Homo sapiens: one gene and its partner. The protein of the gene in region 1 purifies or fractionates together with the protein of each later gene. This does not show direct contact. Each region holds a gene or a part of one and is shown in the gene's direction. Other genes may lie near its edges.

Region 1 (3,423 bases):
ACTGTTAAGGAGCCATGTGAGGAAGATCTTGAAGGTGGCAGAGTTGGCTAAAGCCCAGATGTGCACTGGTGGAGAGTAGGGGCTAAAATCAGGACGAGAACCTGAGAAAGTAGAGGGGCTGGCTGTGAGGAAGCCAATAGAGATTTTAGAGCAGGGAGGTGAAACTTTATTTATTTAGTTAGTTAGTTGAGACAAATTTTCACTCTTGTTGCCGAGGCTGGAGTGCAATGGAGCGATCTCAGATCACTGCAACTTCCGCTTCCCGAGTTCAAGCAATTCTCCTGCCTCAGCCTTCCGAGTAGCTGGGATTACAAGCATGCGCCATCATGCCCGGCTAATTTTTGTATTTTTAGTAGAGATGGGGTTTCTCCATATTGGTTAGGCTAGTCTTGAACTCCTCACCTCAGGTGATCCACCCGCCTTGGCCTCCCAAAGTGCTGGGATTACAGGCGTGAGCCACCGCGCCTGGCCGAGGGAGGTGAAACTTTACAGGCTCCAAGACTAGTGTCCCTGGAAGGCAGAGGAGCCTTGGGCTGCTCTGTTGGGTTCTGGGCCCCTGGCCGCAAGTTTCTGTATTTCCTGATCTCTAGTACTCTGATCCCGGGTGTTCCAGCTTGACGGCTCTGCTCTGATGCTGGGTCCAATGCCTCTGATCGTATCTCTGTCCATCCTTCTCATTCCCACCCAGGTACTATCGTGGTGCAGTGGGGGCCCTCCTGGTGTTTGACCTAACCAAGCACCAGACCTATGCTGTGGTGGAGCGATGGCTGAAGGAGCTCTATGACCATGCTGAAGCCACGATCGTCGTCATGCTCGTGGGTAACAAAAGTGACCTCAGCCAGGCCCGGGAAGTGCCCACTGAGGAGGCCCGAATGTTCGCTGGTGAGAGCCTGCCACTACCCAGGCTGACTCCTCCAAGCTTAGCCCACCTTTCCCTTGCAGTCTCCCAGCCCCTGCCCCCACCCATAGAGCCCCTAGCCTGGCCTTCCTCCATACAGTCCTCTACCCCATCCCCTCTTCCTCAGGATTTCCCAGCACTTCCCCTTTGGGACCCTGTGTCTCCCATGATGTCCCACCACTTGCCCTGAGATTGTCTTTATTGATTTTTTTTTTTTTTTTTTTTTTGAGACCGGGTCTCAATCTGTTGCCTAGGCTAGAGTGCAGTGGTGCGATCTCGGCTCGCTGCAACTTCCACCTCTTGGGTTCAAGCAATTCTCATGCCTCAGCCTCCTGAGTAGCTAAGACTACAGGTGTGCGCCACCATGCCTGGCTAATTTTTGTATTTTTAGTAGAGATGGGGTTTCATCGTGTTGACCAGGCTGGTCTCGAACCCCTGACCTCAGGTGATCCAGCTGCCTCGGCCTCCCAAAGTTCTGGGATTATAGGTGTGAGCCACTGTGCCCGGCCCGTAGTTAATTTTAAGGCAGCCCCACCCTGTAATGCTCAAAGATCCTATGGAGAGGATAGGCTTCCCAGGAGTTTTCTGAGTTTAGAGGCAGCACAATATGGTGGTTAAGGGTGTTCTGGAGTCCCATGGCCCAGTCTCCCATCTGCTCTTGGCCAGTTACTAAATGTGGGACATGGAGCAATTTCCTTATTCTTTTTCTTTTTCTTTTTTTGAGAGGAGTCTCGCTCCGTCACCCAGGCTGGGGTGCAGTGGCACGATCTTGGCTCACTGCAACCTCCACCTCCTGGGTTCAAGCAATTCTCTGCCTCAGCCTCCCGAGTAGCTGGGATTACAGGTGCCCGCCACCATGCCTGGCTAATTTTTGTATTTTTAGTGGAGACGGGGTTTCACCATGTTGGCCAAGCCGGTCTTGAACTCCTGACCTCGTGATCCACCCACCTCAGCCTCCCAAAGTGCTGGGATTACAGGCGTGAGCCACCGCACCCAGCCCCTTATTTGTTTTCTTTGTGTTTCTGGATTCAGTTTTCTAAATGAACCTACCTTGTAAGTTGTTTTAAGGATTAAATGATCTGCTACATGCCAAGAGTTTAGCACATGGCAAATGTATATAGCAAACATTAATATTATTATTATTATTGCCTTTGACTCCCACAATTAATGGTGTGTTTCCCTTCCTGGCAGAAAACAATGGACTGCTCTTCCTGGAGACCTCAGCCCTGGACTCTACCAATGTTGAGCTAGCCTTTGAGACTGTCCTGAAAGGTTAGAGCCTACCTTTATTCTGCACCCCTATTCCATCCCCGTGGCTTCTACAGGCAGCAGTAGGAATGCAGACACTCAGCCCTCACCCCAGCTAATTTCTCAGCTCCTCTGTGGGTCCTGGCACCACTGCCTGTCCCCCTCAGTCCCTCCCCAGTGCCTCCCACTCAGTCTGGAGCTCAGGGAGGGAACAGGCCACACTCCCCATGGGGCTGACTCTTGGTTCCTTCTCCACCCAAGTAAGTAGAAGGGACCCCTATGTCCACACTTCATTTCCTTCCTGCAAAACCTCCTGCAAGTGTGGCCACCCCCCATGCTCAGAAGGGGCATGCAGTATGTATGGGGGGGTTGGGGAGAAGGGAGCATGGGCTCTAAATCTTCTGGCCTGATCACTGCCCTCTGCCCTCCCAGAAATCTTTGCGAAGGTGTCCAAGCAGAGACAGAACAGCATCCGGACCAATGCCATCACTCTGGGCAGTGCCCAGGCTGGACAGGAGCCTGGCCCTGGGGAGAAGAGGGCCTGTTGCATCAGCCTCTGACCTTGGCCAGCACCACCTGCCCCCACTGGCTTTTTGGTGCCCCTTGTCCCCACTTCAGCCCCAGGACCTTTCCTTGCCCTTTGGTTCCAGATATCAGACTGTTCCCTGTTCACAGCACCCTCAGGGTCTTAAGGTCTTCATGCCCTATCACAAATACCTCTTTTATCTGTCCACCCCTCACAGACTAGGACCCTCAAATAAAGCTGTTTTATATCAATGCCTGGTCATTCCACTGCCTCCCGTCTGTTCCTCCCTCTTCTCCTTGTCTGTGCCTCCCCTTCAACTTTGGCCCCTCCTCTGAGTCCCTAATCCCCTTCCTCTGTCCTCCCCACCATACCTACTGCCCCTCAGGGCCAGCTGCCTCTGGAGTTCTGTGGTCTGGGGACAGTGCCAAGGGGATAGGAGGTGCCTGCCCTTCCCTCTGCCAACCCCCAGGGCAGGTGGGGGAGGGAGGAGAGCATGGAGGGGAGGGGGTATATCTGGAAGGCGAGACAAAGGAAACCATCGGCGGGCACCATCTGGTGCTGAGGGCCCTGGTGCCAACAACTGAGGTCACTCCAATGCCAGGGGCAAGGGGAGGAGGCAGCGGGAGATACAAGGGGAGAAGAGGGAGTGGGGGCCAGTCCTGTAGGTGTGTACTGGGGAAGGGGTTTTTAAGCCTGAGAGGTGCAAGGTCCAAGTCCTCCATCCAGTCTTTTTTTTTTTTGAGATGGAGTC
Region 2 (4,104 bases), on another chromosome or scaffold:
AACTAATGATTAATGATATTCATATATAATCATATCTAAGATCTATATCTGGTATAACTATTCTTATTTTATTATACTGGAACAGCTCGTGTCTTCGGTCTCTTGCCTCGGCACCTGGGTGGCTTGCCGCCCACAGTTGGTATCGAACTCCTGACCTCAGGTGATCCACCTGCCTCAGCCTCCCAAAGTGCTGGTATTATGGGCGTGAGCCACCGTGCCTGGTCAGAAAAATCAGTTATTTTAGGGGATGGTATGGGTGGTAATCTTTATGGGTTTTGAATCATTCCTAATCCCAGGGGTCCAAGATGCCACTGGCCTGCTAGTCAAAGGGAGGGCGTGTGGAGGTCAGGTGGTAAGGGGGTCCACAGACCTCATCTGTGGTCGTCTTTCCAGTTCCTGAATGTGTAATTGCAACAGTTACCCTTGACAATGGGCAAACTCCCACACTCATCTGCAGAGCAAGGGCCAGCCAGGTAGGAAGGGCCAGGTGGATGTCTCCTTTCCAGGGTTGTATGAATGATTCACCTGGGAAGAAGGTGAGTGGCCTCTGGGGATGTGGTTAAGGAGGACAGGAATGACTCCTTGCAACTGCTGCTCCAGAGCCTCATCACCAGGACAAATCCAGCTCGCCGGTTTTCTGTGTGACTACCAGGACCCATCTGCTGTCACGGGCGTAGCCTCCACCTCTTGCACAGCTCCGCAGTCCTGCCTCGGGCCAAGTGTGGTCTCCTGCTCTCTGCCCTCATCTGCTCAGAGATTGGCATCCTCTGCACCCGCTAGGGTTCTATGGAATTGGGTGAGCTGAAGTAACAAGTGCTTTGGGAGGCCGACGCGGGCGGATCGCTTGAGTCCAGGAGTTCGAGACCAGCCTGGGCAGCACATGAGACCTCATCTCTACAAAAATACAACAACAACAAAAAATTAGCCGGGTGTGGTGGTGCACGCCCGTAGTCCCAGCTACTTGGGTGGCCGAGGTGGGAGGATGGTTTGAGCTCGGGAGGCAGAGGTTGCAGTGAGCTGAGATCAACCCCAGAACTCCAGCCTGGGCAACAGAGCTAGACCCTGTCTCAAAAAAACACAAAACAAGTGCTGGCGATGCCTCAGGCAGGGGATCCCAGGCCGGGAGGCTCCTCGGGACAGCAGTTACTGCGTCAGGAGGGCAGGAGCTCCCCAGGTGTGCAAAGGGTTTGAGGGCACGGAGGGCTGAACAGGCAGAAGGGACAGGGAGGCAAGAAAACACCTGCAGGAGGCAGCTGCCCCCTAAGCTAAGGCTGGGGACCCAGGAGGGGTGGTCCGTGCAGGAGCTGGGGAGGCCGCTGGGGAAAGGGGCGCCCCCTGGGCTCGGCCTCGGAGGAGCGGGCCGGCCCCCAGGTCCCTCGGCCGAGCCCACGTCCCGGGCCTCGTTCTGGAGAACCCTCCAGCTGCTGCTTGGGCGTCTTGGGCTGCGCTCAGCCTAGTCCCTTCTCTACCTGGAGGGATGCGCCCGACAGCCGGCGCGCCGGAGGCCCTCAGGAAACGCAGGACGAGGCGGTGGCCGTCGAGCCTCCGGTGCCAGTCGGGGCGGGGCTTGGACGGCGGGGCGGGGACTGTAGGCGCGCAGGGCTGGGCCTGGAGGGCAGGCGGGGCGGGGCCCGTTAGGCGCGCGGGGCGGGGCTTCGGCCGCTGGGCGGAGCCGTCAATGCGCAGGCGCGGCGTCGCCCCGCCCACTCCGGCTCGGCGGCTCTGGGCCTGCGGCGGGCGCTGCGGGTTGGAGCTCGGGACGTGATCGTGGGTGCGTGCGCGCGGCCGCGCGGAGCGCTGGGCTGAGGGTCCCGGTCTGCGGTTCAGCCGCGGGTCGGGGTGGCGGGGCGCGATCTCGGGCGCCGTCAGCCAGTCGGTGCCTGTGGGGGGAGGGGGACGGCGCTGCAGCTCGTCACGTGACCGCGTGGAACACGCGCGCGCGTCCGCGGGATCCCCTCGGGGGGCGAGCTCGGAGGAACGGGGTCCTGGGCAAGGTCCCGGCGAGGCCGCCCCGAGCCTGCGCGTCGCTAAGTCCAGGCCTGCTGCGTGGGGCTTCGCGCGCTCGCGGGGTTGCGGCCCGGGCAGGGGGAGGGCCCGGGTGCTCGGAGCCTTCCCTTCGCTGCCCTCCTGCCCCCTCCCTGCTTCTGCAAGCGTGTTTCAATTTGTACAACGTGCATAAAACATGAAATTACCCTTGGCCACTTCCAGGCGCGCAGCCAGCGGCTCCCTGCCCTTCCCCTCCGGGCCCTGAGTACCGGCCCCCCACCAAGGAGGAGCCCGAGGTCTCCGTCCCGGCGGCGATGCTGCCCCGTCGGCCTCTGGCGTGGCCCGCGTGGCTGTTGCGGGGTGCTCCGGGAGCCGCGGGTTCTTGGGGTCGGCCGGTTGGCCCCCTGGCCCGCAGAGGCTGCTGCTCCGCCCCGGGGACCCCCGAGGTGCCGCTGACCCGGGAGCGCTACCCCGTGCGGCGCTTGCCGTTCTCCACGGTGTCTAAGCAGGACCTGGCCGCCTTTGAGCGCATCGTGCCCGGCGGGGTCGTCACGGACCCGGAAGCGCTGCAGGCTCCCAACGTGGACTGGTTGCGGACGCTGCGAGGTGGGTGAGGCTTGGGAAGCTGCGGCGTTTCCGCGTCCCTGCTCCGCTGCGCCTTCCCGTGGAGGCTTCAAAGCGGGCTGAGAACAACCTGGATGGGGGTGCCAGCCCCTGGCTGCGCTGAGAGGGGCGTGTGCACCGCCACAGGCTGCTGGAATGAATGACCACGAACGAGTCGCTTAGAACAACCCAAGTTTTGTTGTTGTTGTTGTTTTGTTTTTTCTTTTTTTTAAGACGGAGTCTCACTCTGTCGCCAGGCTGGAGTGCAGTCACGGAGTTTCACTCTGTCGCCAGGCCGGAGTGCAGTGGCGCGACGTCGGCTCACTGCCACCTCTGCCTCCCGGGTTCAAGCGATTTGCCTGCCTCAGCCTCCCTAGTAGCTGCGACTACAGGCGCCCGCCACCACGTTCCGCTAATTTTTGTATTTTTAGTAGAGACAGGGTTTCACCATGTTGGCCAGGATGGTCTCGATCTCTTGACCTCGTGATCCGTCCGCCTCGGCTTCCCAAATTGCTGGGATTACAGGCGTGAGCCACCCCGCCCTGCCAACAACCCAAGTTTGCCTGGCGCAGTGGCTCTGCCTGTAATCTCAGCTGCCCTGGAGGCTGAAGCCAGGAGTTCAAGACCAGCCTGGGCAACATAGCCAGAACCCCCGCCCCACTCACCTCTAAAAATAAAAATAAATAAATAAAAGTAGCCGGCCCAGGATTGAAAAAACAAAAAGTAAAAAAGTTACTCCAGCCCAGGAGTTCCAGTTTTAGTGGACTATGATCTCACCACTGCATTCCAGCCTGGGCAACAGAGCAAGACTACATCTCTAAAACAAAACAGAATTCCCCTCCCCACCAAACCCCACAAGTTTGTTCTCTAAGCTCTGGAGGCCAAAAGTGTGAAATCAGGGTATCACAGGGCTGCGCTCCCTCCAAAGCCTCCAGAGGAGGCTCCTTCCTGCCTCTTGTAGCTCTAGCTCCTGGTGGCCCCAGGTACCAAATTACTCCAGTCTCTGCCTCTGTTTTTCATACAGGTTTTTCTTCTCTGTGACTCTTCTCCAGTTGTCTTATAAAGACACTTCTCATTGGATTGAGGGCCCACCCTAATCCAGGATGATCGTATCTCAGTACTGTCAACTTAATTACATCTGCAAAGACCGTTTATCCGTTTTTTTTTTTTTTGGAGATGAAGTCTCACTCTTTTTGCCCAGGCTGGAGTGCAATGGTGCAATCTTGGCTCACTGCGACCTTCCCCTCCTGGGTGTAAGCAATTCAGCCTCCCAAGTAACTGGGATTACAGGTGCCCGCCACCATGCCCGGCTAATTTTTGTATTTTTAGTAGAGACGGGGTTTCACCATGTTGACCACGCTGGTCTCGAACTCCTGACTTCGGGTGATCCACTCACATTGGCCTCCCAAAGTGCTGAGATGACAGGCATGAGCCACTGCACTTAGCTGGACCGTTTTTTCTTTTTGTTTTTTTGAGACGGAGTCTCGCTCTGTTGCCCAGGCTGGAGTGCAGTGG

What was found.
Region 2: the proteins of RAB25 (region 1) and D2HGDH purify together in Homo sapiens (co-immunoprecipitation; one large-scale study listed by IntAct). This does not show direct contact.

Annotation. Positions count from the first base shown.
Region 1 is NC_000001.11:156,067,582-156,071,004, forward strand, and holds the end of RAB25 (ras-related protein Rab-25 precursor), read left to right. Parts: intron 1-688; coding exon 689-882; intron 883-2,089; coding exon 2,090-2,170; intron 2,171-2,578; coding exon 2,579-2,706; 3' UTR 2,707-2,923; downstream 2,924-3,423. UniProt on the Homo sapiens protein: The small GTPases Rab are key regulators of intracellular membrane trafficking, from the formation of transport vesicles to their fusion with membranes.
Region 2 is NC_000002.12:241,732,925-241,737,028, forward strand, and holds the start of D2HGDH (D-2-hydroxyglutarate dehydrogenase, mitochondrial isoform 1 precursor), read left to right. Parts: upstream 1-1,705; 5' UTR 1,706-1,771; intron 1,772-2,208; 5' UTR 2,209-2,300; coding exon 2,301-2,592; intron 2,593-4,104.